Homo sapiens: one gene and its partners. The protein of the gene in region 3 purifies or fractionates together with the protein of the main gene of each other region. This does not show direct contact. Each region holds a gene or a part of one and is shown on either strand. Other genes may lie near its edges.

The links.
Region 1: the proteins of CEACAM21 (region 3) and ITIH2 purify together in Homo sapiens (affinity purification with mass spectrometry; 3 studies listed by BioGRID and IntAct, with this or other methods). This does not show direct contact.
Region 2: the proteins of CEACAM21 (region 3) and CDON purify together in Homo sapiens (affinity purification with mass spectrometry; 3 studies listed by BioGRID and IntAct, with this or other methods). This does not show direct contact.
Region 4: the proteins of CEACAM21 (region 3) and FUT8 purify together in Homo sapiens (affinity purification with mass spectrometry; 3 studies listed by BioGRID and IntAct, with this or other methods). This does not show direct contact.

What each region holds. Positions count from the first base shown.
Region 1 is NC_000010.11:7,699,171-7,706,315, forward strand, and holds the start of ITIH2 (inter-alpha-trypsin inhibitor heavy chain H2 precursor), read left to right. Parts: upstream 1-4,145; 5' UTR 4,146-4,264; coding exon 4,265-4,348; intron 4,349-5,937; coding exon 5,938-6,012; intron 6,013-7,145. UniProt on the Homo sapiens protein: May act as a carrier of hyaluronan in serum or as a binding protein between hyaluronan and other matrix protein, including those on cell surfaces in tissues to regulate the localization, synthesis and degradation of hyaluronan which are essential to cells undergoing biological processes.
Region 2 is NC_000011.10:126,059,678-126,067,729, reverse strand, and holds the start of CDON (cell adhesion molecule-related/down-regulated by oncogenes isoform 2 precursor), read left to right. Parts: upstream 1-4,863; 5' UTR 4,864-5,151; intron 5,152-5,288; exon of another isoform or gene 5,289-5,442; intron 5,443-8,052. UniProt on the Homo sapiens protein: Component of a cell-surface receptor complex that mediates cell-cell interactions between muscle precursor cells. Promotes differentiation of myogenic cells.
Region 3 is NC_000019.10:41,571,035-41,579,486, forward strand, and holds the start of CEACAM21 (cell adhesion molecule CEACAM21 isoform 1 precursor), read left to right. Parts: upstream 1-5,131; 5' UTR 5,132-5,240; coding exon 5,241-5,304; intron 5,305-6,165; coding exon 6,166-6,525; intron 6,526-7,924; exon of another isoform or gene 7,925-8,038; intron 8,039-8,235; coding exon of another isoform or gene 8,236-8,318; coding exon 8,319-8,452.
Region 4 is NC_000014.9:65,611,558-65,619,189, forward strand, and holds part of FUT8 (alpha-(1,6)-fucosyltransferase), read left to right. Parts: intron 1-4,420; coding exon 4,421-4,536; intron 4,537-4,653; coding exon 4,654-4,816; intron 4,817-5,532; coding exon of another isoform or gene 5,533-5,634; intron 5,635-7,632. UniProt on the Homo sapiens protein: Catalyzes the addition of fucose in alpha 1-6 linkage to the first GlcNAc residue, next to the peptide chains in N-glycans.

The DNA of each region.
Region 1 (7,145 bases), on a different chromosome or scaffold from region 3:
TATTTGAGCTGTGATACCTTCCTTCTGATTGTAAAGATATTTTCTTATAGCTTCTTCAAGGATTGTCTATTTGAATTTCCAAAGATGACATTCAATTACTCTGCTACATCTTTTCCCCTCTCTTGGCCACATGACTTAACCACTCTGAGCCTCACTTTCATCATCTTTTAAATTAGAGGATCCAGCTAGATAACCTCTAACATCCCTGGTGGCTCAGATATCCAAACACACTCTTCGCCCTGTTTACACCTTGGAGGGAGCCACAATTACTCATATGAAGGTGCTTCCCAGCCTGTACCTGAAATACCAGCACCAGATCTTAGTGTGATCGTGAGACCACTTCCAGATGAGACCCCTTCCTCGCCAGAAAACACCCAGACACCCTGGGAGGAACAGCAAAAGCTGCTACACTGGAATTGACCTATCGTGGCTGGTCACATGTCTACTCTACTCTCGATTTCTCTACTCTGGCAATGGATTTGAATTTGAACTTCAGAGGTAAGGAACACAGAATAGGAAAGAACTGAAATGGCTCAACAGCAAAGCCACGTTTCCATGGCTTAAGAACCAATGAGAGAATCCGTTCCATGCTCTCTAACTTCCCATTTTTGGCTTGTGATACTGCTATTCAGTTTCAAATATTTTTCTTTTGAAACATCTTTATGTTCTGGCCTCAAATGATACAAACCCACACCTGGCCAGGCACAGTGGCTCACATGTAATCCCAACACTTTGGGAGGCCAACATGGGTGGATTACTTGAGTCCAGGAGTTCAAGACCAGCCTGGGCAACATGGTGAAACCTCACATCTACAAAATATACGCTCACACAAAAATCAGCTGGGTGTGGTGGTGTGCACCTGTAGTTTCAGCTACTCAGGAGGCTGAGATGGGAGGATTGCTTGAGCCCAGGAGGTTGAGGCTGCAGTAAGCCATGATTGCATCACTGCACTCCAGCCTGGGTGATAGAGTGAGACCCTGTCTCCATTAAAAAACTAAAACAGGCTGGGCGCGGTGGCTCAAGCCTGTAATCCCAGCACTTTGGGAGGCTGAGGCGGGTGGACCACGAGGTCAGGAGATCGAAACCATCCTGGCTAACATGGTGAAACCCCGTCTCTACTAAAAATACAAAAAATTATTCAGGCGTGGTGGCAGGCACCTGTAGTCCCAGCTGCTCGGGAAGCTGAGGCAGGAGAATGGCGTGAACCCGGGAGGCGGAGCTTGCAGTGAGCCAAGATTGTGCCACTGCACTCCAGCCTGGGCAAGAGAGAGACTCCATCTAAAAAAAAAAAAAAAAACAGAACCAAAAAAAACACACCTCTGCATTACAGAGGACAAAAAAATGTAGCAGAGTAATCAAATATCATCTTTGGAAATTCAAACAGACAATCCTTGAAGAAGATGTAACAAAATGTCTTCACAATCAGAGGAAGCCATCACAGCTCAACTATGTGTAGAAAACAGACCTGCTCCATGTTATGTGCAACCTGACCCACCAAACAAGCAGGTCAGGGTCAAATATAGCTATTTTTCTGGTGAATTCATCCAGCTTTGACTTTGGACTTTTACAAACATGCTCTTTCACAATGACAGGGCTGGAGCTGAATGCTATAAATGTGAGGCAGCTATTGTTATACTGTCAGCTAAACCACAATGACTTACACTCAGTGATGAATCTCAAGTTTGTTGATATTTCCCAGAGTTCCCAATGAGTACTAAATGTTATCTCTTTGTTCAAACATTATGAAATATTGTGATTTTTTTTCTTGTAGATTTCCTACTGATTTTCACATACGTGAAAGTGAATATTCTTGTGGCATTTATGGTAGTGATTTCCATCCTAGAAATCAGTGGATATATTCAATTCACCACGTCACAGCTGCCCAGGCATGATGGGAGGGGTTGGCAGTGGGGTGGGGAGTGCAAGGGGAAAGGGTCTCAGGTTCAAGACTCAGTAGCCTGAATACACAGCCTACGCGGTCGTGCTTCTGAACATTGAGAGAGAGAGCAAATGTTGTTTTGTTTTGTTTTGTTTTCAAGAATTTGGGATCAGGCTGAGCACAGTGGCTCACGCCTATAATCCCAACACTTTGGGAGGCTGAGGCAGGTGGATTACTCGAGGTCAGGAGTTTGAGACCAGCCTGACCAATATGGTGAAACCCCATCTTTACTTTAAAAAAAATAATACAAAGTTAGTTGTGGTGGTGCACGCCCGTAATTCCAGCTACTTGGGAGGTTCAGGCAGGGGAATCGCGTGAACCTGGGAGGTGGAGGTTGCAGTAAGCCAAGATCATGCCATTGCGCTTGAGTCTGAGCCACAGAGTGACGCTCCCTCTCAAAAAAAAAAAAAAAAAAGGACTTTGGGATCTGAAGACAGAGTATCAGCATGGAAAAAAGTCCAGCCTGCTTTTGGTTTGGTTTATTCTGAGATAATTCTGAATATCAGATTAAAATAATCAGAAAGGAAATGATCAATGGAAGGAGGTATGATTTTGAAAGTCACTGCTGTTTTTGGGAGAACATGCCATTGGGTTTTTTATTATTTATTTATTTTTTTCTTTTGAGACCAAGTCTTGCCCTGTTGCCCAGGTGGAATGCAGTGGCGTGATCTCAGCTCACTCTAACCTCCGCCTCCCCAGTTCAAGCAATTCTCATGCCTCAGCCTCCCAAGTAGCTGGGATTACAGGCGCATGCCACCACACCTGGCTAATTTTTGTATTTTTAGTAGAGACGGGGTTGCACTATGTTGGCCAGGCTGGTCTCAAACTCCTGACCTCAGGTCATCCACCCGCCTCAGTCTCCCAAAGTGCTGGGATTACAAGTGTGAGCCACCGCGCCCAGCTGCCATTGGGTCTTAATTCTCCAGAAACAGTATCTCAGTCAAGAATGCAAAGCTGTGGCAGGATTTTTCCATGAGGGGTCCACTGAGGCACTCACTGGCCAAGGTGGGCGCTCAACTAGTCCAACCTAGGCAAGGGAGGGGAGAATCTGTTTTCTCCCTTCCATTATTTCAGAAGTTATGTTTCTCCAGCAGACACACGGCTGTGCAATTTCGAAGACTGAGGGGAAACTAGGGAGGAAAATGCAGAAAACTCTCTGTTGCATGCCCTGTGAATTGGGCTTTAAATGTAGCAAGGAGCTCCAGGATCCCAGAAGTTGGCCTGGGGTGCTTGGTCCTGAGGATAAGACAACCTCCCTTGTATTGTAATTCTGCCCACAGCTGGAGCTTCCTATTTCAGTGTTGCATCCAAGAAGTTACATTTCCTGTTTGTTGCAAGAAAAATAGAATCTGACCAGGATGGAGGCTAGGCATGGGGGCTCACATCTGGAATCCCAGCAGTTTCGGAGGCTGAGGCAAGCAGATAGCTTGAGCCCAGGTGTTCAAGACCAGGATGAGCAACATGATGAAATCCCATCTCTACAAAAAATAGCCAGGCAGTGTAGTGCACACCTGTAGTCCAGCTACTCTGGAGGCTGAGGTGGGCAGATTGCTTGAGCCGGGGGAAGTTGAGGCTGCAATGAGCTTTGATCTCACCACTGCACTCCAATTCTGAGACTGGGGAGTATTGATTTGCCACTGACCTGAGCCCGGCTGATAGGGGCAGCAGGACAGACACTGTTACCTTAATCAAAGACATTCACGAAGCATTCTCACTGAAGATCTGCCCTAGTATCCTGCACAGCCACTTGCCTGGGTCTTTATAGGTAACAGGTAGACAGTCATCAAAGAGATAGGGGAAAACATGCACAATGAATTCTTTGCTCAGAAAAACCCTTCTGTGTCTTCTCCCACTTTTTCTAAATTTTTCCTGCTTTCATTTAGATCAAAGGATTTTGTTTCTTGGAATAGTTCTGCACTTGGTCCTTTAGAAAGGATGACAATTATCTGTAGGTCTCTCTGATTTTAAGATCAATAGAAATCAGCAAAAGCCAAAAAATAAAAAATAAAAATAAAATAAAAGCACACAAGCACATTCAAGCACATCCATCTGCCCCTGACTTGTCCTCACAGTAAGCAACTGCTTCTGACTTTGCTGTTTGAATAACCTCTGGGTGTTCGATCCACCCACACAGCTCAAGTTTGAGCTCCAGAACAAATATTTGTCCCAATTTTGAACAAAGTTAGAGAGTTTTTTCTTCTTTTTTCTTCTTTCTTAAAGCGAACTGTACTCCTCTGCTGTTCCTTTGAACTTGGTTCAGTAGGAAGAAGTGATATCCTCCCCAGACCATCTGCTTTGGGGAGCTTGGCAAAACTGTCCAGCAAAATGAAAAGACTCACGTGCTTTTTCATCTGCTTCTTTCTTTCTGAAGTATCAGGCTTCGAAATCCCCATAAATGGACTTTCTGAAGTAAGTACTTACAGATCACTCCTTGCTGTTGGCTTGTTCATGAGCTCAGTAAATCATCTATTGGAATCGCTATTCAATGGCCTTATTCTGTGTGTAATGGAAACTTAAGATAAAATTCATCTGAGTGCAAGTGTTTACTGTTATAATTACTGGAATGTATATTTACCTTTTAAAGCATTAACAGGTTTTGCATGAAAATTAAGTCAAGATCAATGGGCAGGCATCAGAGCGTAGCATTTATGGAGCAGAGCTGCTCACTCCTCACCTAAAAAATTGGGGGTAAGAATAGACCTAACCCAATGGTTTGCTTTGAGAATTAAATGACACAGTGTAAACTCTTCTAGCAGAGCGCCTGGACTAGTAAGTGCTTAATAATTACTAGCTGTTATGATGATGAAGAAATATTATCACTCTTTTACTAAGAGTATAAGAAAAGTCATTATCAAAGCACACTGTTTTTCATATCTAAGTGAACAGTGATATTTGTAATAAGAGCACTTTAAGTATTCCTATTAAAGCGGAAGATAGCAGGCAGGGTGGAAAAGTACAAGAATAATTCCCATGGAGTACAGGTCTCCACTTTTGTCCCTTAGCCATCTCCAATGTAAGGAAAGTCTTGGACTGAAAGTCTGTTTCTGAAAGTCATACAAGAGCTATTTTTATGCCAGAAAAGCGAAGCATGTTATGGGAACATCCCAGCAAATGCAAAGGCTTATAATACTTGCAGAGTGGATTACCTATAAAAATGCCAGAGAATATGACGGCATATTTACAAAGGGAAAATATCACTCTGTCTGCTTTGAAACTATCATATTTTCCAACACTTAAAAGCCACCAGAGTGTGTTAGAAATCTCAAATTGAAGCCAAGACATCCAAATGTGTTTGTGCTTTTTCAGTCATTTCTAACTGGCATTTCCTTTTAGAAAATACCTACATTTTTAACTTGGGGAGATGTATGGTTCATGTCTGTCCAGTCAGACACTGCAAATGCCTCCAGGGTCTACCCAGATACTTCCCCAGACACCCACCTAATCACTGGGTTGTTTTGATCTCTGTCTTACCACCTGCTGGCAAACTCAAAAATGAATTCCCATGTCCAACAAATGCGAAGGTGTTGTTACCCTCCATTTGGACACCTCTGAGACGTAACCAGCAAATAGAAATATACTAAAGAAATCATTTTATACAAAATTGTGATTGCCCAGAGGTAGAGGAAAGAATATAAAATAATGAATACCAACAGCTATCTCTTTGGCTCTAGATCTTTTGGAAATCATCATTCTCAGCAAAGTAACACAAGAAGGGAAAACCCAACACCGCATGTTCTCACTCATAAGTGGGAGTCGAACAACGAGAACACATGGACACAGGAAGGGGAACATCACACACTGGGGCCTGTCAGGGGGTGGGGGGCTAGGGGAGGGATAGCATTAGGAGAAATACCTGACGTAAATGATGAGTTAATGGGTGTAGCAAACCAACATGGCACATGTATACCTATGTAACAAATCTGCACGTTGTGCACATGTACCCCAGAACTTACAGTATAATTAAAAAAAAAAAAGTTAAAATCCTAATTTTTTTTAAGTTTGTAGACTATGAAGATCTTGTGGAACTGGCCCCAGGCAAATTTCAATTGGTGGCAGAGAACCGGAGATATCAGGTATAGTAAGGTTTACTCCCAAAAGGGGGAAAAAAAGTGAAAGAGATTATGGCAGAAGAAGACAAGTGTTAAGATGCCTTCTGCTAGATTTTCTTAAGAGTTTGTTTTTTAGCACAGAAGAGTCCAGACTTCTTACACCTTGGTGGAAGAGATCACCCAGGTGAAATAAAAAGAGAAACTCACACAACTGCTCAGCAGCCTTCACACCATAATGCTCAATTTAGTCCCTTAAAGAGTACACGACTCAGCACAGTGGCTCCCACTTATAATCACAGCATTTTCAGAGGCCAAGGAGGGAGGATCACTTGAGGCCAGGAGTTCCAGATCAGCCTGGGTAACATAGTGAGGCTCTACCTCTGCCACCCAGCTAATATATATATTAGCTGGCATGCACCTGTAATCCCAGCTATTTGAGAAGCTGAGATGGAGGATCACTTGAACCCAAGAGTTCGAGGCTGCAGTGAGCTATGATTGCACCAGCCTGGGCAACAGAGGGAGACGCTGTCCCCACTCCATTTAAAAAAAAAAAAAAAAAAAAGAATACATGGCTATGTGTTTTCTTCAAAACTTAAGATTCCGAAATTATTTCCTGCCTTGCCGGAAGGATTTCCTGTTAGGAAGACTTTTCTTATTTTAGCGATGACAGACACTCCCCCTTGCAGCCTCACAATCTCCTTCCTCTGGTCACTCTGAGGGCACCTGAGAAGGAGAATTGGCCACATTGGAAGTTGCAATCCTGGCGGCCACCAGCAGCAGTATAGACAAAACCCTCTAATTAAGGGGGTGAGTTTTCCAGAACACCAGGAAGGGCTTGGCTTCTTCCCCACGGAGCCCACATGCTGAGAGAGGAGGTATTTACGGAAGCAGCAACCCTAAGCTGATCAATGTCTTATTTTGTATGGGTGTGAATTTTTTACTTTCTGAAAATCCAGGATTTTTTTTTGTAGACTAATAATATTAAAATCCAATAAGCAAGACTTCATGTCACAATTTATTTAGCCACAAGAGAGAAAAATTTGTCATTGAGCATTGCATTCAAGAAGTCTACAAGAAGAGGTCAACCATTGACCTCACCATGTCACACAGCACAGAACCTCAGTTCACCCCGAATCAGGCAAGCTGAGCTTATATCC
Region 2 (8,052 bases), on a different chromosome or scaffold from region 3:
TAGGCAGGCTTTCAGTGTATCCTGTTGGTGTTTCTACCAGAACATCAAGTCTTTCTTGAAGGACTGCAAGAATCTGAGGACTTTGCATTATCTGAACAGTTAGCTGATGTGCTTTGATTTTTGTTTCTTCACCAGTTTCTTCTTCATGTACTTCTTCAACATCATCCAAATCTCGATCAAGTTCAGATTGTCAGTGTCTGCCATGTTATAAGAACTCCAAATATCGGCAGCTAGTATGGGAAGCCAGGAGGCCTGAGCTGCGCAGGCAGTGACTCAGGGCGGCAGTGGCGGCAGGAGGAGCAGGAGGCGGCACTGCGAGCAAATGGTGCTAAAAAAGAACAGATCAGTTTAACTGATCAATTTATTTGAAGTGATATTAATAAAAATACTTCCCATTATTGTAGGGAGACATTAATGTGTAATAATTAAGAGTCCAGCCTCTAGACACAGATTACCTGAGTTTTAATATGAGCTCTGACACTGACTAGCCGTGTGACTATGGTCAAGGCACTTCATGTCTCAGTTTTCTCATTTGTAATTTGGGACTAATGCTTAAAATAATACTTGGTGCACAGAAGGAACTATATAAGCATTAACTATTATTATTATAAATAGCTTTTATTTATGTTAAAAACACTTTTATCCAGTGTTTGCTACTTGCCAATCACTGTATTAAGTGCTTTGTGTGTATCATCTCAATTAATCCTCCTAGCAAACCACTGAAGTAGGTCCTATTAACAACTCTATATGAGGTATTATTACTCTTTACAAATGATGAAGTCATTTACAACTTTACAAATGATGAAATCAAGACTCCAAGAGTTTAAGTTATTTGACCAAGATCAAATAAGGTACAGTCAGAATGTGATACAAGTTTATGGACTCTAGTTACTCTATTATGTTATTCTTGGAGAACCATTTTTGTTTTTGTTTTTGAGATGGCGTCTTGCTCTGTCGCCCAGGCTGGAGTGCAGTGATGGGATCTCGGCTCACTGCAAGCTCCGCCTCCTGGGTTCATGCCATTCTCCTGCCTCAGCCTCCCGAGTAGCTGGGACTGTAGGCACCCACCATCACGCCTGGCTGATTGTTTGTATTTTTAGTACAGACGGGGTTTCACCATGTCAGCCAGGATGGTCTTGATCTCCTGACCTCATGATCTGCCCGCCTCGGCCTCTCAAAGTGCTGGGATTACAGGTGTGAGCCACCGCGCCCGGCCTTGGAGAACCAATTTTAACATGTATTGAGTATTATAAAAGCACCCACTTCAGGCCTGGAATGTATTAAATGTCACTTAGTATCTAACAACCTTCCCACCTCATCCCTGAGGACTTGAGTACTTGGCTCATGGTATTTCATTTATCAGCCTCTCAGTTCCTTCAATATGTCCCCTGACGGCATAAATCATCCACATCGTCCACCAGCACCGGTAAACATACTAGATCTAATCATTACTTGGAACTGTTCTACTTCTGAAATGGTAAACTCTGGTTATTACCAAAGACTTCTTGGTTCTTTCTTACTCAATCCTGTAACAACAGCTCTTTAATGTCATACATATCTCCTTTTCTTTAATTTGTAATTTTTCCAGTCTATTATTCTTCTCAAACCTCTTACACCTTTTCCACTGCCTGGATTCTATGATTGCTGTTTTAAAAATTTTCTTACCAATACCGTGTGTTATTTTCCTTCTTGTACAACTTCCAGAAAAACTTCAAAATTGGGTTGGTGTTATGCTTTTCCCCTTCTACCTGACTGATTAAATTTTGATGGAGAAAACCACATAATCATGCAAGCTCCATCACCATACATTAATGGTCTCCAACCTCAGCCAGGCCCTCAGCATCACTTATCAATTCTCTGAGTGATTTTCTACTTTCATTTTTCAACTCTCATTTTTCCTAATGACTATTCCAAACCTTCACCACCTTCTTCAAGCATCCTTTTCAAGTCCCATACCTTGAGTTCAGTAAACAGCCTTTGCTCCAAATTCATCAAGATAATTGGGGGCTTTAGTTATTGGAGTTTTAGAGATCCATCCTTGGCTACAACTTTCTGGTTCCATATTATTCCTGAGAGATCGCTTCCACTTTAATGGTATAAACACTACTTTATGCTGATGACGTTTAAATCCGTATTTCCACTTGGAGTTCTCTACATAGTGGACATCTGTGGTTGGAGGCCCCATAGTGTCTTAGTCTGTTTCTGCTGCTATAACAAAATGCCTTAGATTGGGTACTCTTTAAGCAACAGAAATTTATTTCTCATAGTTATGGAGGTTGGGAAATCCAAGATCAAGGTGCCTGCAGATTCAGGGTCTGGTAAGTGCCTACTCCTTACAGATGATGACCTCTCTGTGTCCTCCCACGGCAGAAGGGACAGAAGGGGCTAGCTAGCTCCTTGAAGCCCTTTTATAAGGTCATGAATCTTGCTCATGAGGGTGGTCCTCATGACTTAGTCAGCTTCTAAAGTCTCCACCTCTTAATACTATCACCTCTTAATACTATCACCTCTTAATACTATCACCTCTTAATACTATCACCTCTTAATACTATCACCTCTTAATACTATCACCTCTTAATACTATCACCTCTTAATACTATCACCTCTTAATACTATCACCTCTTAATACTATCACCTCTTAATACTATCACCTCTTAATACTATCACCTCTTAATACTATCACCTCTTAATACTATACTCAATACTATACTGACCTTGTGTTCACACAGCTCCCTGTTCATTGCACTGAAGATGTCTCCTTGTACTTACCCACGTGTGTGTCTGTATCACAGTTAGACTGTGAGCTCTTTGAAGCTTGGGACTGCACATTGTTTCTTAATGTTGAACAAATGGATGAATGATTCATTAATGAAAAACTGTTTTACACCTGAAATGATTTCTCTGCTTTACAAAAAAAGGGGGAGAGGAAGTAATTAATATCAACAAACATTGTGATTTTTTTCTTAGTCTGACTATGAGTAACAGTAGGCATAGTGAATTCAAATGGCACTGTGAGATCTGGAGGTGCACAAAGTGCATTATGTCCCAGGAGAAGAACCTGGAATTCTCTGTAGCCACAATAAATTTGCAAGACTTCTATTAACATCCACACAAAACTCTCATTTCAGTTAAATCCTCTATAGAAAGACTTACTTGCCGAATGAAAAATCGTTTACCATAGCTTGTTAATAACATATAGATTCTTGGTCTCCAAAAGTGAACAATAGAACAGTGGAGGACAAACTAGAGTTAAGAGTTTTTTTCTGGCTGGGTGTGGTGGCTCACGCCTGTAATCCCAGCACTTTGGGAGGCCAAGGCGGGAGAATCATCTGAGGTCAGGAGTTCAAGACCAACCTGGCCAACATGGCAAAACCCCGTTTCTACTGAAAATACAAAAATTAGCCGGGTGTGGTGGCACGTGCTGTAATCCCAGCTACTTGGGAGGCTGAGGCAGGAGAATCGCTTGCACTCGGGAGGCGGAGGTTGCAGTGAGCCAAGATCGCACCATTGCACTCCAGCCTGGGCAACAAGAGCACCCCAGCCTGGGCGACAGAGTGAGACTCCGTCTTAAGAAAAAAAATTGTGTTTTTTTTTTCCGTCCTGTACTGACTTTCTTTCCAGGGGCTTTACAAAAACCCTGAATCTAGCTAATGCAGAAAGCTAACCTGCTTGAACAATACCACACTTTCAAAGCATTTCTTTTTAAAATTCACGTAAGAAGGTAAGGGAGGACTGGCATATTTCTCCTGAAGTTCAGTACTGAGTATTTATAAACTTAACTATTATTAGGGATCCTTTTGTAGTTAAGCTAATAGTAAGTAATGATGATGGGGAAAAAAAAGAGCTAACTGCTAATAATAACAATTTATAAAGAAGTTACAGTCCTTGAATGCCCACTGAGTGGCAGGTGCTTTTCACAAAGTATCGTATTTACGCTTCACAGCAACATTTTGAATAGAAATTTATTTTTCCTTTTTCTGTTTGAACAACTGAAGTTCATTGAGTTCAGATAACTTGGGGCAGGTCCAACGGACGAGTTGGAAAGACTCTGGGGCCAAAGGCTCACACCACGCCTCTCCTAGCCCCTGAGTTTTGCTACCTGCTTGCGTTTATGTGCAGGCAGGGCGGGTGGGTGGTGGTGGGGGAATCAGATGAAGCTGCCTAAGGAATTAAACATGGAAAGTGGTGGAAAGGCGAAGGAGGTATAAGCGGTGGGCCGCTGGAACCCTAAGAGAGACCAGGCAAGAACCGGGAGAAGGGATGCACCCGTTGGCGGCTCAGAGAACTTAGGTAGAGGCGAGGGGCGGGGCGGGGCGAGGGGCGGGGCCTGAACGAGGCTAGGGCGGGGCCCGAACGAGGCTAGGGCGGGGCCCGAACGAGGCTAGGGCGGGGCCTCGGGGGACAGAGTCGACCATTTGGAGACCTGCCAGAAGAGCCGTCTCTCCAAGGGAATGAAAGGTGAGGGGAGCGTGAGTGCAGGCATGATGGGAATCTCCGTGACTTGGTAAGGCAACTCACCCTTACCTGTCCTACACCCAAGAAAAGCCTCTTCTATGCTCCCCTGGGGTATCTCTCTTGCAGAGTAGGCAGGTCAATGACGAGGAGAGGGTCCTGCCCAGAGCGTGCCCCCCTCCGTCACTTGGTACGGCCCGTGCCCCCGCCGCTGATCTGGCAGGCTGCGCGCGCACACTCCGGCCGGGTGCGGGCCGGCGGGGCACAGCGGCCTCTACGGCCCGCCTCCGTCAGTCATTCCCCGGTCCCTCCTCCCGCTGCTCGCGTGCTCCGGGCCGGCCCAGCACCCTCCGAGTTACGTGCCCGCGCTCCCCGGCGGGGAGGAGCGCAGCCGCGGGGGCGCGCCCCGGTGACTCCGCCCCTCAGCTCCCCTCCCCTGAGCCCGGGAGCCCGGCTCGCGCGGCTAGGTGCGAGGAGACCCGGGACCCCACGCCCGCCCGCCCTGCCCAGCGCCCCAGCCCCGGCGTGCGAGGCGCCGCTCCCTCCTCTGCCCTGCGCGGTGCATGGAGGGGCCCGTTCGGATCGCAGCCGCCGCCACCGTAGCCGCCGCCGCGCGCGCGCGGGGGGATGACCTGGGGGTGGCTTTCCGAGCCGGCTGCAGCGCAGGAGGTCTGGAGGCTTAGCCAGCCCCGCGGAGAGGTGCGGGGGTGGGGGTCCCGCCGCAGGGTCGGAGGGAGGGGTGGCGCGCGGGCACTGGGCTTGGGGGGCCTTGGCTTAGGGGACGGGAGGTCCCGGGGACGGGCGGGCCGGCGTTCCCTGGAGGGCGTGGGGGTGCAGGGCTGCGTGCGGGGTCTGGATGCTGATGCTTGCCCGGCGGGGAGCCCCGGCGTTCCGCGTCCTCGGGGGCTCGGAGGCACCTCGCGGGAGGAGGCGGGGTGAGGTGTCAGTGACACGACGAAACCTCTTCTTGACGATGGTCCTCGGGGGCAGGTGAGATGCCGCAGAGCGGGGAGCTAGGGCGCCCGCGCGTTTTCCCAAGGGAGCCGGGTCCCTGGCCTCTCTCAATCTCCATCCCTGCAGAGCGCCCGCGAGAGACAGTGATTTATGTGTAGGGAGAAGCAAGAGAAATTTCCTGCACAATGTATCTTTCTCTGCCTTCACAAGACTCACTGACTTCCCAGCCCCAGGGAGTGTATTTTTCCTTCTCCTCTGTAAAGCTTTCTGTGGATTGCATTATCATTTGCTAAATACATTACAGCTCGCTATTTATTTCAGTCGGCAGCTTCCAGACCTTTGTTGCTTTCTCTCCACATCTAGGAATTTCAGCAATAAATCACTGAGGGGGATAGATAGACTCTCTTGCCCTTCCCTTCATTGTTCTCCCTAACCCCACCAAATCAGGTGGAAGGCTCTCCAAAAGGAGCTGTTTCCAGAATGCCTGCCCTTCCTCATCAGGACGACAGAGGGTGGCAGGTGCTTTAAGGGCAGACTGCTTTCCAGTGGGAATCCAGAATTTAGAGAACCTCATCAACAGAAAGTCAGCCTTTGTGTCCCAAACCAGACACCTTGAAAAACAGGAGGTTGGACTAAAAGCTCACATGAGATTTATTTTCAGGCCTATGCCAGTAAAGATGAAAGACGCCAAGTCAGTGAATTCTGATTCCTTTCGGCGCTGATAACATAACCCTCAAATTCCCAACTGACACTTGGCATACCTAGTGGACAGTGTCTCCAAGGAGAGGAAGGTGGGGAGGGTGTTAGAAAATGAAATGAGTTTATTGTCAGCATAATTCTAAACATTCTATGACATTTTGTAGTTCTCCCCCACCCTCAGTCTATTTTTAGCTGAAAATTTGGGGATAGTTCAACTTTTAAGATAAGATGAAAGAAAACCTTCAAAAAATTTTCTGGAAATTTTAAATTAGTGCTTAACTAGAAAGCATTCTTTGGAACCCGAGAAGCACCAAATACTGCAGTCTCTGTTATGCACATGTTGGAATGAACTGCCTCATACTTGAAGTTATATGAGAAGGATGGAGAAAACCTGTTTCATTTTGTAAAGACGTGCCCTGGGTGTGTGTTTGGCAGTGTGTAGAACAGAAACATTTATATTTCTATTAAGAAACACACAAATGTATACTGTTTAACTTTCATGCAAAAACTTCCCAGTGTTTGGGAAATCTGTCTTTGTTTGAATAGTTTAGTCAGCCAGGAGAATCAGTTACTAGAGGTACTGTGCTGTTGTTTGTGTAATAACTCACTTGGGATGCTTTGATTGATTGCCATGGTTCTCATCAGCCTCCTCTTCTGTGCAAAGTACTTAAACAGCTCTGACTCTCAAGCCTTCAAGTACAAAGAACCCTTAGGACTTGGATACTGATCTAGCTTGTGTAGCTTGGCTTCTAAATCTAGCTTACGCCTTGCTTTCTTTGCAGGTGGTTTGACTTTGCAGGAAAAGAATTAAGTTCACTTTAAGATAGGACTTTCTCCTCCAGATCGTCAGGGTATATACAGCTGAAGGCAGTAGGTAGGAATAGGAACTAATGTCCTAGGGCTTTGTTCTAAAGAGAGCAGGTAAAAATTTGTTGACTATTTCTTGGGCTTGCTTCTTATTTTCCCACTTCGCCCATCTGCCTTCATGACTTTGTAGACAATTTCATGTATGGTTTTGTCGAAATGTAAGTTGAAGTAAAATTTTCCTTCTGTAGAATTTTTTTTTTTCCACGAACGTTTAGACTAAAAATTGGTGATTGTTTCGAAGTTAAATACTAGGGAAATGATTTCAGGAATTAAATATTATCGTAGTAAAAATCAGGGAAGCGTTAGAAAATAAATAATGAGTTGAAAAATGTGTTGCTTTAACGTGTAATGATATGAGCCAGCGCCTTGTGATCAGCTATGGCATGATGTAGAAGTATGGGTAAGACAATACAGTGGAGCTGTAGATGAGCTGCGTACATGGTAGCCCCCCTTTAAGTAAATGAACTTAATACAAACTAATTAGATTAGAAACAGAATTTGGAGTATGGTTGCCAAATATTTTGAGTTGAAGGACTTGCTTTTTTACAGTATTTTTTAATGGGGAATTTTTTCAAGAAATTTCGTGAACTTGAATTTGAGAATGTTTTATTTTTACTTAAATTTTTATATTGTATGTAATCATTCCATGTGATAAGTTTTTGTTGTGTATTTGGCACTAACTCACTTTCAACAGCACAGGGGAGGGCTTTACTTGATTCTTTTTTGTTAAAAAGAAGGGATGGTGTATGGAATATTCTTAATGTCACTTGAAAAATATTGGATTACAATTAAATGAAAAACTGGTTTCTTGGTTTTTTTTTTTTTAATCCTTCAAGTTTTCCCTCATTGCTTGTGCTCTTTCCCCCATTGTCAGGCTTAAAACATACAGTATCATTGTCATCTGTCTCCTGAATAATGGTCCTGAGGTGATATTATTAATGTGGCTTTTTAAAATCAAGCTAATTATACTTGCCTAAAAGAGCCACATGTGTGTGATTCTAGCTGCCTGGTGCCTTTTGAGAGCCCTGGAGACAAGCTAGTGAATAGAGCTGAAAATTCATTCTGTATTTGATTAAATGG
Region 3 (8,452 bases):
AAACTGGTGGGGCTCTGTGAACTGCAGGGTGTTCAGCACCATCCACCCACTCAATGCCAGCAGGACTCCCTCCCCCAGCTCTGACAACCAACAATGTTTCCAGACTTTGCCAAATGTCCCCTAGAGGGCAAAATTTCCCCTGGCAGAGTCACTGATCCACACTAATCTCTAATAACAATTCACCAGTAAAATCCTTCACTTGGGAGAAGAATCGCATGTGTGGGAAGAGTAGAAACTTATATCTTCAATATCTGTCAAAATGGCTTTCATTTATTCCATAATTTGATGTACCAGGAGAAGGCATGTTTAGAGATGATGCCATTTGGCTGCCTGTACCTCACAGCAGGAATGACATGGGCTTTCCAAGGATCTATACAACAAAAACCAGAATGACACACACTGAGTTACACTACAAAGTGGGACATGGGGGATCCTGTAGACATTGAAAGAAGAAAATGCATGACCCCAAGGCACCAGATAGTCCACTCTGATGCTCTCACCATCCTAGAAAACATCTCAGCCATGAATGCAGTCACATATGTCATTAGGAAGGAATGTCTTATTAAGGGGAAAATTGTAGCAAAGGAATTTCTGTTTATGTTCAAATTTGTAGACTTTTGTATTATTCTTTAAATAAGAATCTACTCTCCCCCAAAATGAATGCAATCAGTGTCTGGACAGTGTTGGGGTCTTACTCCTGGCCCCTGGGAGCTGGGAGCTGACAGTGCCCTGCTGCCCCAGCCCTGGGCCTTCTCTGAACCTCAAGAACACTGGATGGCCCCCATTTAGGGAGTAGAGAGGAGAGGTCTTTTAAACATCCTCACCAGTCACCTCTCCACCTTTCAGACCCTGGGCAGAATCTGTTGCCCACTCTTGGATTTGATCTTTAAGTTACTGACTTTAAAGCATTTTGACACTTTTTTTTTTTTTTGGTAGTCAGAAGCTTTCCACCTCCTTGGGAAAAGTGATTCTCTACTCTATGTACAGGAATAACCAGTAGAAATAGAGAAAAAATGCATTAATATTCAGAAAGAAGATGATCTCTATGTGAACAAATGAAAGCTTAAAATCATCAGAGTCAACATAAAATCAACATTGCCAGTGCTAAAACTACAAAAGTGACATTAACGGTGAACTAGAAGAATAAAACAAGCATTACAGTTGCTGGTAAACCTAAATCACTTATTTTTTTAAAAGACCATTCTGGTATATTGCAATGATGACAGGAGTGCCCTTCAGTCAATATGATGCCTGTAATTTTTGTGACCTGGCAAGATATACTGTCCCTTCTCCTTTTAAATCTCAAATGCAAAATGAGAGGCAACTCCTGGGTCACCCCCTCCCAGAGCAAACTGCCTGCAAGCAGCCCCTGGAAGAGCAGAGGCCCTAGTTTCCCTGATCCTCAAGGCAGGAGCGATGGGAAGCTCCCTGTAAGCCGGGGGAGAGCTTTGTTCCCAGAATGTTCCTCCTCTTCCCAGAGGCACCAACCCCGATGCCCTGACACTTACCTTCTGCTCTCTCGCCCAATGTTCACTCAAATATTGAGTGCTTGGTGAGTCTGCAGAGCTCAGGAACTTCTGGGAGCCAAATCACCACCAGCTCCTCCAGAAAAGATACCTGTGCACACCCAAAACCACCCCACTGAGCCCTGCCTGGGGTCTGTACCACATCCAGCATGTGCACTGTGAGCATAGAATCCGGCCCTGAATTCATGACCACCCACCAACATGCCCCCAACTGAAACCAGCAAATTCCCACACATGGCAAGCACTGAGGCTTGGAGGTGCTTTCTCACGAGGTGGTTCTGCTTCCACCATGGGGTGGTTGTCACTGACACTGGAAGTTGCTCAGCACCTGATAGTGGTGCAGGACTCAGGGACCCTCAACATCAATCTGGTGAAGGCAGATGGGGCCCCTCCAGATCTTCTCCCACCTGCAGGTGCCCAGCTCAGTAAGACCCCAACCCTGGGAGGAGGATCCAGACCCCTGTGCCAGGTAGACCAAGCTTGAGGCCTCAGGCAATGAGAGAGAAGGAGATGGAGGTCTGACCAGGAGCTGCTCTTCCTTGAGAGCCCGGGTCCCTTCCTTGTGCAAAGGCTTGGCTTATGAACAGAATCCTCAATCTGTAGTGACAGTGCCTAAGAGGATGACATGGACTCCGGCCTGATGTGCAGCCGTCCCTGTCTAACCCCTCCCTGCTGCAGGACAGCACCAGCCCAGGAGAGGAATCCTCAGTTGGGGAGCCAGTAAGAACATGGAATACTCGGGGCCTCTTACCTTCCTCCAGTCCACAGCAGCAGCCACCGTTTGTGCCTAGGACACCCACCTGCTGGCCCTTCTGACCCTTACAGTCAGGCCTTCCAGATGCCACTCCTGACTCAAGGCCCAGCTACTTTCACCCTGCTGAGCCCTGCTCCTCCCAACCAGGGTCACTGCCTTGCTAAGCACCTCCTCCAGCTCCAGCTGACTGGTCACCCAACACCCAAACCCCAGAGGACAAACAAGAAAATAAACAGATATGAAGTCTGAAGGAGATGCAGGCTATGAAGACAAATAAAAGAGTAAGCATGAATATAACTCCACCAACAAAATTGTTTCCCAAAACAAAATCTTCTGTGCCCATGATCATGGAACTAATTGTCCCTCACTATGTAGGCAAGCACTTCCAGGGTCTCTCAATTATTTCATGGGTGTCAATATACACTGTAACATAGCAACTCAGAAAAGAAAGTGGGAATAATTTATCTACTTAGATTAAGGTCCTAAAAAGGTCTCCAGACTGCCAAAAAAGGAGAGCTGAACCACTCCTGCTTTGAGAACCATTGAACTACATCTTTTTTAAAAGTCACCCCAGAATGGCCAAAACAATCTGGAAAAAAAAATTGGAGGACTCACTTCCTAATTTGAAAACTTACTAAAACACTACAATCATTAAAACAGTGTGCTTCTGGCACAAGAATGCACATAGAGATCAATGGAATAGAATCAAGAGTCCAGAAATAAACCCTCACCATTACAGCCCATTGGTTTTTGACATGGGTGCCAAGATTCCTCAATGGGGAAAGAATGGTAGCCTCTTCATATTGTGCTGGAACAACTGGATAACCACATGCGAGATAGTGTAGTTAGACCCCTACCTCACAGCCCATACAAAAGTTAACTCAAAATGTTTCAAAAACCTAAATGGAATAGCAAAACTTATCAAACCATTAGAAGAACATATAGGAGTAAAACTTAATGATCTTGGATTGGGCAATGGTTTCTTCAATATGACATCAAGAGCATAAGTAACAAAATTAAAAATAGATAAGTGAACTTCATCAAAGTTAAAAATGTTTGTGCTTCAAAGAACACCATGAAGAAAGTGAGAAGACACAGAATATGAGAAAAATTTTGCAAATCATGTACCCCATAAGGGACTTGTATCTAAAATATATAAAGAACTATTACAACTGAATAATAAAAAGATAACCCATTTTTTTTAAACAGCAAATGATTTGAATAAATAGTTCTCTAAAAAATATTAAAATTGTCAGCAAATACATGAAAAAATGCTCAACTTCATCAGCCACCAGGGAAATGAAAATCAAAACTGCAATGAGCTATCACTTCACACCTACTAGAATGGCTATAAGTTTTAAAAAATATTAAATAGTAAGTGTTTACAAGAATGTAGAGAAAATGGAACCCTCGTATATTGCTGATGGGAATATAAAATAGCACAGCAAACTGGAAAACAGTTTGGCTGTTTCTCAAAAACTTAAACATAGAACTACCACATGACCCCATATTTATACTCCTATATGTACCCCCAAAGAAATGAACACAGAAACCCAAACAGATACTTCCAAGTGTAAGTTCATTGCAGCGGTTTTCACAATAGCAAAAATGTGGAAACCACCCACATGTCCATTAAGAGATGAATGAATTAAAATTGAGGTATAAACATATATTGGGATATTACTCAGCCATAAATAGGAAAGAAGCTGTAATATATGCTACGACGTGGATGAATCTTAAAAGTGTTACCCTAAGAGAAATAATCCAGAAAAAAATAATACACGTATATAATTCCTTATTATATGAGACATGTAAACTAGGCAAATTCACAGAGATTGATAGTATCAGAGGCTACCAGTGGGTGGGGCAGGGGGAAGTGGGGAGTTATTGATTAAAAGTATGAAGTTTCCATTTGGTATAATGAAGATTTTCTGGTAAAAAATTATGGTGATGGTTGTACAACATTGTGAATAGAATTAGTATCATTTAATTCTACACTTAAAATTGCTAATTCAGTACATTTATCTTATGTATTATACCATATCTAAAGAGATCTTTGGGAAACAAACACTCGCCCTGATCAGATAGTCCTCATACTCATGTACACACCCTTCCTGACCTTCTGTAAAAAGGGATACAAAGATTTAGGGACATGAGACAGTTCAGGCAACTGCAGATCCACAAAATATATGTATTTGCAAAGAGAATGAGAGTTAAGCTGGGGGCACAGACCCCAGACACGGAGAGGGTCCCCCTGAAACCTTCACCAAGGACAGCAGAACCCAGAGCCTCCCACCTCCTTCCATCAAAGTCCTCTCTTCCCAGGACACACAGGACACCTCCCTCCACACCTAGGAGCTGGGGATCCTCCCGAGACCTCCAGGCCTGGGTCTCTGTCCCTGGGTCAGAGGCCAGGCTGGTGACACTGAAGATAGCGGGTGGGTCCTTCCCAGCCATCACCCAGTGAGCCCCTTTCTAGCCCCCAGAGCCACCTCTGTCACTTTCCTGCTGGGCATCATTCTGCCTTCCTGGAGCACTGGAGAGCATGAGGAGACCCAGGGCCCAGCTGGTTTTGTGTGTCACAAAGGGAAATAATCTACCGGCTGTGACAGAACCAAGGCCAGAACACAGCAGAGGTCAGTACTGGGGAGAGTGGGTCGTCCTGTTATGAGGACCCCATCAGCGTTGCTTCTCAAAGTTTTGCCTAGGGAACCAAATATAGGCAAAAAGGAAGGAGAAAGGAGGGACAAGGGAGGCAGGACTGAGAGGGGAGGGGACAGAGAGACATTGTAGGCAGAGCCCCGCCCTTGCCCATAAACGGGAAGTGCTCCTGCCTGAGAGGAAGCTCAGCATAGAGGAAGGAAGGACAGCAGAGACAACAGTCACAGTAACCCTGTCTAGAGCGTTCCTGGAGCCCAAGCTCCTCTCCACAGAGGAGGACAGAGCAGGCAGCAGAGACCATGGGGCCCCCCTCAGCTTGTCCCCACAGAGAATGCATCCCCTGGCAGGGGCTCTTGCTCACAGGTGAGGGGAGGACTCCCTGGGAGTGGGTGGGAGGAGGGAGCACAGAGACTGGCTGGGGTCTCCTGGGGAGGATGGGGCTCTGAGAGGAGACAGAGGGCTTTTGTTAGAGACTCAGGGGAGAGAGCGTCTAAGGAGAACCAAAAAATCTAAGTGAACTGGAATTGCCAAGGGGCAAAACAATCTCAGTTGGTCCATGTTTTCAAGTTCATTGTCAGTGGCCACTACACTTTGAAAATGATAGTAAAACTATATCACAGTGACAATTTAAATAAAAACACCACCAGGGCATGAAACTCTGTCTTCATCTGCCAACCTCAGACATTAGCAAATAAACCCCAGGATATGGAAGGCCCTGGGAACGCTCATGAACTCATCCACAGGAGTCTGCAGCCTGTCCCAGGCACTGGGGTGCAACTAACATCACTCAAGTCCATGCCCTCACAGAGCTCACAATCTCATGGGGGGGAAGACAGACACCCAAAGAGATCTAGAATGTGAGGTCAGGTGCTGACAAGAGCCCTGGAGGGAACAGAGCTGGGAAAGGTCAGAAAGGGAAGACCCAGGGTCTCTAGAGGAGGCTTCACGAAAGAAGTCTCCCAGGGATTCCCTTGTGTGAGTAGGAACTGAAGGCAGTGGGGAGGGAACCATGCAGACCCCTGGGAAAGAGGGTTCACACAAGGAAATGCCAAGGTCAGAGGTACTGAAGGAATGAGGGTCATGCTGCTGACTTTGACCCAGTAGGACACACACACACACACACACCCTCTAAGGCTGAGGGGTGAAGAGACCTGCACCCAGGACCCCGTCTTTCCATGCCAATGCATAGGTCAAATATTGACTGATATTCTCTCCCTTTCCTAGCCTCACTTTTAACTTTCTGGAACGCACCCACCACTGCCTGGCTCTTTATTGCATCAGCGCCCTTTGAAGTTGCTGAAGGGGAGAATGTTCATCTCTCTGTGGTTTATCTGCCCGAGAATCTTTACAGCTATGGCTGGTACAAAGGGAAAACGGTGGAGCCCAACCAGCTAATCGCAGCATATGTAATAGACACTCACGTTAGGACTCCAGGGCCTGCATACAGCGGTCGAGAGACAATATCACCCAGTGGAGATCTGCATTTCCAGAACGTCACCCTAGAGGACACGGGATACTACAACCTACAAGTCACATACAGAAATTCTCAGATTGAACAGGCATCTCACCATCTCCGTGTATACGGTGAGTGATTCCTCCGTGCCTCTGGGTGTTGGGGGTCAGTTCTGCTTCACATACGCAGGATTGTCAGGCCTGGGCTGTGCCTGCATCCCCCTCTGCATTACGTCCCATGTTGGGGTTTGGGCATTTAGTGCAGGACACACCCAGGGGAGACAAACTATAACAGATCAGAATTCCTTTCCCTTATCCGGACTCCGTGGAAATTCCCTACAGCAAGAAGGATAGTCTGATGCGGGAGATGCAGCGGGGGAAAATCAGTCTCAGTCCAACCCCCCTTGGCCTCCTCCTCATAGACATGACCTGAGAAAGATCTTATAGGACTCAGTCAGGGCCTGGCCTGAGGATCCTCTGAGAGAAGCTCAGCCCTTGAAGCCCCTGCCCCAGGCCCCTGTCCCAAGATCCTGACTCCAGATGACCCTGGGGAGCCTGTGCCAGGGCTGGGTTGTGGCTTCCTGGGCAGGGCTGATTGTGAGCAAGGATTTACCAGCTGTCCCAGGGCCGTGGTTCCTAGAGCTGGTCACCAGGCAGGGCTCAGCCCCCAGAGCCCCATCTGGGCAAGGGCAGAGCCTCATCTTTCACCTGAGAGTCAGAGTGGAGAGGACAGACAAACAAACTTCCCAGGCCATTAAACTGGATGGGAAACTTAAAAGATGTCCCGGGAAGTGCACTGTCCTCAGGAGGAGGGAAAGCAGAGAAAAGACACTCTGGACCGCTCCTTCTCCACCAGGAATCAGGCCCAGAGAACTCTTTTTTTTTTTTTTTGGAGTAAAATAATAATAGATGATGTTTATTTGGAGCTATTCTGTGCCAAGCTTTAGGTCAGGTAATTGTAAATATTTTAATGTTAATTTACAGAGAGGATGGCAAGCCAGGGACCATTGACATGTACCCCATTTTATTAAAGAGAAATTGCATCAGCATCACACAGGCTGTCAGTGCTCAACGTCACACCACCGTGTGTCTGCAGCCCAGAATCTGGTCGTGGCCACCACCGTGGGGCATCTGTGGACCCCAGGACCAGATGTTGGTTCAGCTCCTTTCTTCTTGGGCATCCTCAGCTCAGAGAGGGAGATTCTGGTCTGAGGAATGACGGGCAAATGGAGAATTAGTCAGTTTTTACTTAGAACGAAATCACCTGTCTCAACTATCAGACTCAATGCCAGGATTGTCCAAGCCTCTCCCATCAGATCCACATTCCTTCCCTCACTGGACGTGAAATCATGAATTTCTTGATTTGTTGATGTCACTCCCATGGGAGGATGAAGGAAAGGACTCAGCTTTCTCTTCCCACTACACCCTGTACCTGCACAAGGCCCAACTGAGACACACACTCAGTAGTTCTCTGATGAAGGAGGGAGGGAATTAATGAAAAAAGAAAGGAATAATCATAACCTCTTTACAGACTGGGTCCTGGATGTAGGATCCTAGGAGGAGCTGGCCACACCTCTTCCTTGTCCCTTAGGGGCTGAGACCCATGTTCCATTTCTCTGACTGCCTGCTCCTAAAGCCACCCCAGGTATTGCATCTCATGTGACTCTGGGGCCGCTCATCTGTGGGAGGGTTTTCAGGGCTCCCTGGTCCTGGTCTGAGGCAGCTGGGTCCTCCTGGTCCCTGGGGTCTCTGAGGTCACTGTAGTCCCTACTGCTCGCTGCTATGGGTGTCTCTGGTTCTCTCTGCTCCTCCCTGTCCTTCATCTTTCTCCTTTATTCACAGGAGAATGTTCTAAATTTGACTCTGAGATCTCTGAGGATGCAGCATGGCCCCAAGACACTTTCTGTTGGTCACTCTATCCACAGAGTCAGTGGCTCAGCCCTCCATCCAAGCCAGCAGCACCACAGTCACAGAGAAGGGCTCCGTGGTCCTGACCTGCCACACAAATAACACTGGAACCTCTTTCCAGTGGATTTTCAACAACCAGCGTCTGCAGGTC
Region 4 (7,632 bases), on a different chromosome or scaffold from region 3:
ATATATAATCTGCAGTAAATCTCATTCTTTATATTTTTCATTTCAGACATTATAGTTTTCATCTGTAGTAGTTCAACTTGGGTATCTATTAAAATTTTTTCTTTCTTTCTTTCTTTTTTCTGAGATGGAGTCTCACTCTGCCACCCCGGCTGGAGTTCAAAGGCGTGATCTCGACTCACTGCAACCTCTGCCTCTTGGGTTCAAGCAGTTCTCCTGCCTCAGCCTCCTGAGTAGCTGGGATTACAGACGTCTGCCACCATGCCTGGCTAATTTTTGTATTTTTCATAGAGACAGTATTTCACCATGTTGGCCAGGCTGGTCTTGAACTCCTGACCTCAGGTGATCTGCCTGCCTCAGCCTCCCAAAGTGCTGGGATTACAGGCGTGAGCCACCGCACCTGGCCTATTAAAATTTTAACATCTTTTTTATATCTTCCCTGTCTCTAACTTTTGAACATATGAAATACAGTCATAATAACTGTTATTTCTATGGTGATTCTAACATCTGTGTCAGTTTTGAGTTGGTTTTGATAGATTGATTTCACTCTTCTTTATGGGTTGTCTTTTCTTGTTTTTTTGCAAGCCTGGTAACTTTTGTGGATTCCAGACATGAATTTTACCTTGTTTGTTACTAGAAGGTCTTGTATAATTTACAAATATTCTTAAATTTTGTTCTGGGATGTAGTTATGTTATTTTAAAATAATTTGATCCTATTTTGTCTTTTAATAATTGTTAAGTGGGACCTAAGCAATGTTTGGTCTGGGGCACATTTTCCTGCTATTGAGGCCAAATCCTTCTGAGCATTTTACCCAGCATCCCATGAATTACGGTTTTCTAGTCTGGCTGATAGGATCAGGAACTGTTTCTACCTAATCTGTATGAATGCCAGGTACTACTTCCTCTAATCCTTTTAGAGAGTTCTTTCCCCAGCCTGAGTAGTTCCTTATGTGTGTGTGCTGATGAGTACTCTGCTAATTCCAAAATGGTACCTTTGCAGATTTCTGGAATTCTCTGTCCTCTACAGTTCTCTCTTATTCAAACTCTGTCTTGGTCTTTTTAGACTCTTAGCTCCATTTCTTCAACTCAGTGAATGTACTGGCTCCATCTGCATTTCCCCTCCATACACTGTGGTCTGGAAACTCTCTGAATGCAGTAAGCTGGGACAGTCACAGGGCTATCATCATTTGTTTTCCTTCTCTGGTGATCACTGCCCTTTGTTGCCTGATTGCAATTTTATTAGATCATTGTTTAATACATCTAACCTGGATTTTGAGTTGTTTCAGGCAGGATGGTAAATGTCTTGGCTAGAAGTGGAAGTCTTATATATCTGTATCTTTGGCATGGTGAATGTAAGAAAGCATTCTGTTCCCTAAGTATTCAGAAAAGAGACTGTTCGTGCATATTGACTCTTTTCTGGATGGAGTTTGGAAAGAATAGTTCTCCTGTATTTTTTTTTTAGAGTGATTTTTCCAGTAATTTTCTTTTCCAGTTTTTTTTTTCACAGTTGGATTAGATTATTAGGCAATATGGATTACTAATTCCATTATGTTTTATTAGAATTAGATTGGAACTCTTTGTGGAAAGCTACTGAAAAGATCACATGCTATTTTTTTCATGGCTGTTTTGCCTCTGATGTTTATTCCACCAATATTTGAAGAAAGAGATAAAAAGGAGAACCTAGACATAATCTTTCTATTGTCAATTTTTCTATCACTAACATATGTTCTGAAAAAGGACATTCCTGTCCTATAGTATATTGCTGCCAAAATAAATCCCAAGAGATTGAAGTTTTATTCTATTTTCAAATTGTTTCCTAGAAACCAGCCACCTAATTCACAAAGAGATTAAGAGCCAAGTCTTAGAAACATAACTTTAAAAAACTATATACCAGGACATGCCTCATTTGTGAATGTATGCGTGCTCATAAATTGGGTAATTGTGCACCTAACTACTGTATTCATTTTTTATTATTCGCTTTGTGCTTATACAAATGAAGGCTTTTTCATTCATATTCTGTAGCCTTGGACACTCATGATTGGAGGATAGTTACTTTTTATGCTCCTGTTCAATGTTAATGCGTACAATTTTACAGGAAATTATAAAATGTCTCCAATTACTTTGGTATAGCTGTAACAATAGCTACTTTATTAAACGTGTTCTGAAGTAGTGTAGGTAATTGACAGTTAATTTGGCTTTATCAGGTTATATAGAAAATGTTAGAGAAGCTATAAAAAACCTTTCGTATCAGAGTGTTTGCCTCAAAAGGCTATGTTGGCTGGGCGCCGTGGCTCATACCTGTAATTCAGCACTTTGGGAGGTTGAGGTGGGCGGATCACTTGAGGCCAGGAGTTTTAGACCAGCCTGGCCAACCCAATGAAACCCCGTCTCTACTAAAAATGTAAAAAAATTAGCCAGGGATGGTGGTGCATTCCCGTAATCCCATCTGCTCAGGAGGCCGAGGCACGAGAATCATTTGAATCTGGGAGGCAGTGGTTGTGGCAAGCCAAGATCCCATCACTGTACTCCAGCCTGGGTGACAAATCGAGACTGTGTCAAAAAAAAAAAAAAAAGACTGTGTTGACATCTGAATTTAAGTTCTGCCAACTATAATTTAAAACTTAAGTTCCCTTAAACTGGTCATGATGGTAAGAATAGATAGCCCAGACTTTTTGAGATTACAGCTCATCTCTAAAATGACAAAGCTCAGATATAATAGTAGCCTTCATAAAATTTATTGCCAGACACTGCTAAGTACTTTTACAGACATTTCCTCATTTAAATAGACTTTGAAAGAAAAATCAGCTATTTAATCTTTAGGACAATTTTGTAAAAGGATCAATATATGTACGTATTAATTTCCTATTGCTGCTTTGACAAATACCACAAACTTTATGGCTTAAAACAACATAAATTTATTCTCTTAAGAGTTTTGGAGGCCAGAGATCTGAATTGAGTTTCACTGCACTGAAACCAAGATGTCAGGAGGGCTGGATTCCCTAGAGAAGCTCTAGGAGAGCATCTGGGGTATTTTTGTTTGTTCGTTCGTTTGCCTTTTCCAGTTTCTAAAAATGTCTTCCTTGCTCATGGTTGCTTCTTCCATCTTCAAAGCTAACAGCCACATAACCTTTTCCTCTTCTGTAGTAAAATCTTCTTCTACCTTCCTCTTATGAAGACACTTGTTATTACAAAATGGCTCACCTAGATAATCCAATCTCAAAATCCTTAATTATATATTCAGAGTTTCTTTTGCCATAAAGAGTAATATTCACAGATTTCATGATTAGGTTATGGATATCTTTGGGAGACCTTTGTTTAGCCTACCACGAAATTGTATTATGTACATCAAAGTGGAGTACAGTATACTGCCATAAGTCACATAAAAACAAAACAGGAACAAGCACAGTTTGGAATTAAGTTGAACAGAGAGGTTGATAATATAAGTAAGAGATCTTGGATTGCTGTTCTGTGTTCCAGCTTTTATATTATTGACTGATTGTTTTTGTTGCTGATAGAAATGAATAGAACAATGATCTTCAATTTTTTATTTTTATTTTTTCGAGACAGGGTTTCACTCTGCTGCCTACACTAGAATGCAGTGACATGATCATAGTTCATTGTAATCTTGAACTATGGTTCAAGGATGGTTCAAGCCATCCTCCTTCCTTAGCTTCCTGAGTAGCTGGGACTGCAGGCACACACCACCATGTGCCCAGCTAATGTTTTCATTTTTGTAATGATGGGGGATTGCTGTGTTGCCCAGGCTGGCCATGAACTCCTGGGCTCAAGTAATCCTCCTACCTGGGCCTCCCAAAGTGCTGGGATTATAGGCATGAGTGGCTACACCTGGCCCAATTTTTTTCTAATATGTTTTATCTTCTACTCTTGTCTTTCTTTTTTCTATATAAGACCAATGCTTAGTAGTCTAATGTCATGAATTGAAAGACAGATTTACATAGTCTGATATTATAATTAATTTAGAAATACATTATATTTGATGTTTGAGCATGTCCTTAGACACATGTTCAGATATGCTTCGTTATTCCCTTTAAGCCTTTTCTTTACTTTTTCCTTCACTTTTGTTACTCTCAATGCTAATGAATAATTGACCTCTTTGCCACTGATCATGGTACTCTGGGGATGAAAGATTTTTAGGAAACAGCTCTAGAGGTTTGTTAACTCCTAGAAGATCATAGATTTCTGAAGTAGATTAATATTTTCTATTTTTCGTTATTATCATTTCATTGTCCATTTCACTGGTTAATCCTATACCTTTGAAGAGAAAATTCCATTTGGTACTACTTTTGTGCTATATGGTTCAACAACTTATGGAGTTTACAGTATAAATGTTTTAGAAAGTGAGCTTGTATTTTGTTGCACAGTTTGAAAGCTAAATGTTTACATTATCTTCCCTAAACTACAGGATACCAGAAGGCCCTATTGATCAGGGGCCAGCTATAGGAAGAGTACGCGTTTTAGAAGAGCAGCTTGTTAAGGCCAAAGAACAGATTGAAAATTACAAGAAACAGACCAGAAATGGTAGGTGATTATACAGTGTTTTCCCCTCCTCAGTATATGGGCTTTAGCACAGATAATTGAAAGTTTCCTTTTATCAAAATGTTGGAAATGCTACAACTCTCTATTCTTTGACTACAGGTCTGGGGAAGGATCATGAAATCCTGAGGAGGAGGATTGAAAATGGAGCTAAAGAGCTCTGGTTTTTCCTACAGAGTGAATTGAAGAAATTAAAGAACTTAGAAGGAAATGAACTCCAAAGACATGCAGATGAATTTCTTTTGGATTTAGGACATCATGAAAGGTACTATTCTCCTTTCACATTTTATTTGGGCTTTAGAAAAGATTATAATCTAAGAATGAGAAACAGACTTGTTAATCCATCTGTTGAGTGGTAAATATTAATAGCACCTACAATATTTAAGAGGCGAAGAGTACCTGAGGTCCCAAAGGATGGTAATTGCCAAGTGCAGTTCATCAACCAAAATATACCACCAGAAAGTATTAATTAAAATGTATTTCTAGAAATCTTTACATTCTAAATAAATTCTGAAGGTAGTGGTGCCAGCCAACAATACATTAAAATATCTTTCTATAAATGTTCTTTATATATAATCAGTATTTGAAGTGGAGTGTGCAGTTTTGCATTGCGGTACATTGGAACTCATAGTGAGTCCGATGGTTACATTTCTAATTCAAACATTAAAAACTTTAAAATAGCATTTTTTTAAGGATTTCTAATGAAAGGTTAACAGGATTTTTTTTTTCTTTAAGTAAAAAGGAGCATTCTGTTCATTGTTCTTTCATTAGTTGCTGGAAAGAGGTACCTGAGATCTGCCTGGTTAAATTTGTTTCTCCTATGCACACGTTGCTAAATAATATGAAGTTTATCTTCCACAGAAAAGAAAACATTTTGGTGCTGTTGTATTCATGCAGAACAAAATGTATCTGAAAATCATTATAAATACAGTGAAACCTGTCTTTAGGCCTGTTATATTTAAAAGTCTATGTTTCCAGTAGGATTCTGATGGCAATTACTGTCTCATTAGTGAACAATAAAAGAAAAATTGTTGTATTAGCACAACCTACTACTGTGAAGAGGAAAAGAATTACCCCATACAAGTAAGAGATTTCATATTTATTAACATCAGCAGCAATATTATAATGATTTTGAAAAATTGCTTGGTTGTTTTAGGTGAAATTATAAATAAAAATCTGTCTATTGGAATCATTTTAGCATTAATGAATCTACAGAAATATGATAGCATGGATTTCAAGGGGCAGTGAATTATTAGGCCACACATTGGACAGACTTTTTGATATATTTAGCCCAACTTGCAGTCAGGCCATACTTAGACCACTAAACCAAATGCTGACTAATTCTGTCATTAATATTTCTCTACCCTAAAGCTGATTCTAGGCACGAAGCATCTCTTAAATGGAATTTTGTGCTTGTGTTCTTTGCTTATCACAGTTTTTTAGGCCAATTCACATCTGAAGAGGATTTGACTTGGGTAGACTATGCTGTATGTAAAGGAGAATTTTGGCCACTGACTTCTGATGGAATGTTTAATTTTAAGATTTGAGTAATTGGGCTGGGCGTGGTGGCTCATGCCTGTAATCCCAGCACTTTGGGAGGCTGAGATAAGAGATCTCTTGAAGCTAGGAGTTTGAGACCAGCCTGGCCAACATGGTGAAACCCCGTCTCTACCAAAAATACAAAAATCAGCCATGCATGGTGGCACATGCCTGTGATCCCAGCTACTTGGGAGGCTGAGGCCCAAGGATCACTTGAACCTGGGAGGCAGAGGTTGTGGTGAGCAGAGATCATGCCACTGTACTCCAGCCTGGGCAACAGAGCAAGACTCTGTCTCAAAAAAAAGATTTGAGTAATCAAATAACTTGAGAATTTAATTTTCCAGTGTTTTTAAAAATTAATTCATATATATATATATATATATATATATATATATATATATATATATGTATGTATATATTTATTTATTTATTTTTTAGATGTGGAGGTCTTTCTATGTTACCCAGGCCAGTCTTGAACTCCTGGTCTCCAGTGATCCTCCCTCGTCAGCCTCCTGTGTAGCTGGGATTATAGGCCTGGGCTACCATGTCCAGCTGAATTGAAATAATTCTTTAAGGAATTATTTTGTAAATAATAATATAATTTGTTTATATAACTCGCATATGTTTTGTGACCATATGTACAAATGAAAAGTGAATATAAGAAATGGGCCCCTGAGAAACTGATATAAATCAGTTTTCCATTTTGTTGTTGTTGTTGTTGAATTATGATTCCTTACAGTGCCATTTAGTATGTTAAATAATGGTAGTTCATTGAAAACAAAAATGGTAAGTAAAGGTACCCAAGTCAGTTTATTTTCCTGTCTTAAACAGAAATGACAATGAATCTGGGACATAACTTCATAGGGTAGTAATTTAACTCCAGGAAGCCAGATTAGAATGCAGTAATACAAATAATGAGCAAAACACAATCAAACATTAGAGAAATAACCCTTAAACTGACGGACGTACAAATAGAAAGGACTTTTATTATGTAGAATATACCCTTTTACTGACCATTTTCAAGATCCTTAAGTATAAGAATTAAAATCAAAACAAACTTTTAGGTTTGCCTCTGGTAATTTTTATATGATACAAAAGTCCATTTTATTTTTACATTGGCTCAAATGATAGTGTATAGGTTTCTAGGTCTGTAGCTGGGACCATGGTCAGTGAGGCTGCCACCTGGGTATGGGCCTGCCTTCTTAAAAGAGCCCTCCTGAGTCTTGGGCTCTATTAGGGTTTTGCAGCCTTCTACCTGGGTTAGAAGATTATTAGCAGATTATTGAACTTGAGTAGTTCATTGTGGGAGCCCCTGATTTGACAGAGTGTGGGTACCCTGGCCACTTTGTACTTGCGATGGCATGTGAAGTGGGGTGTAGTATTATGGAACTGAGAGGTCTGGGCTAATTCTGGGTAGTTTGTGTCACTACCTAGTTGGTGTCCACAGAGATTTGGAGAATTATCTGATGTGGAAAATGCACATATTTGGTGTCAGAAGTGTTCTGTGGTGAAAAACAGATCATAATAGTAGTAGTAATACTA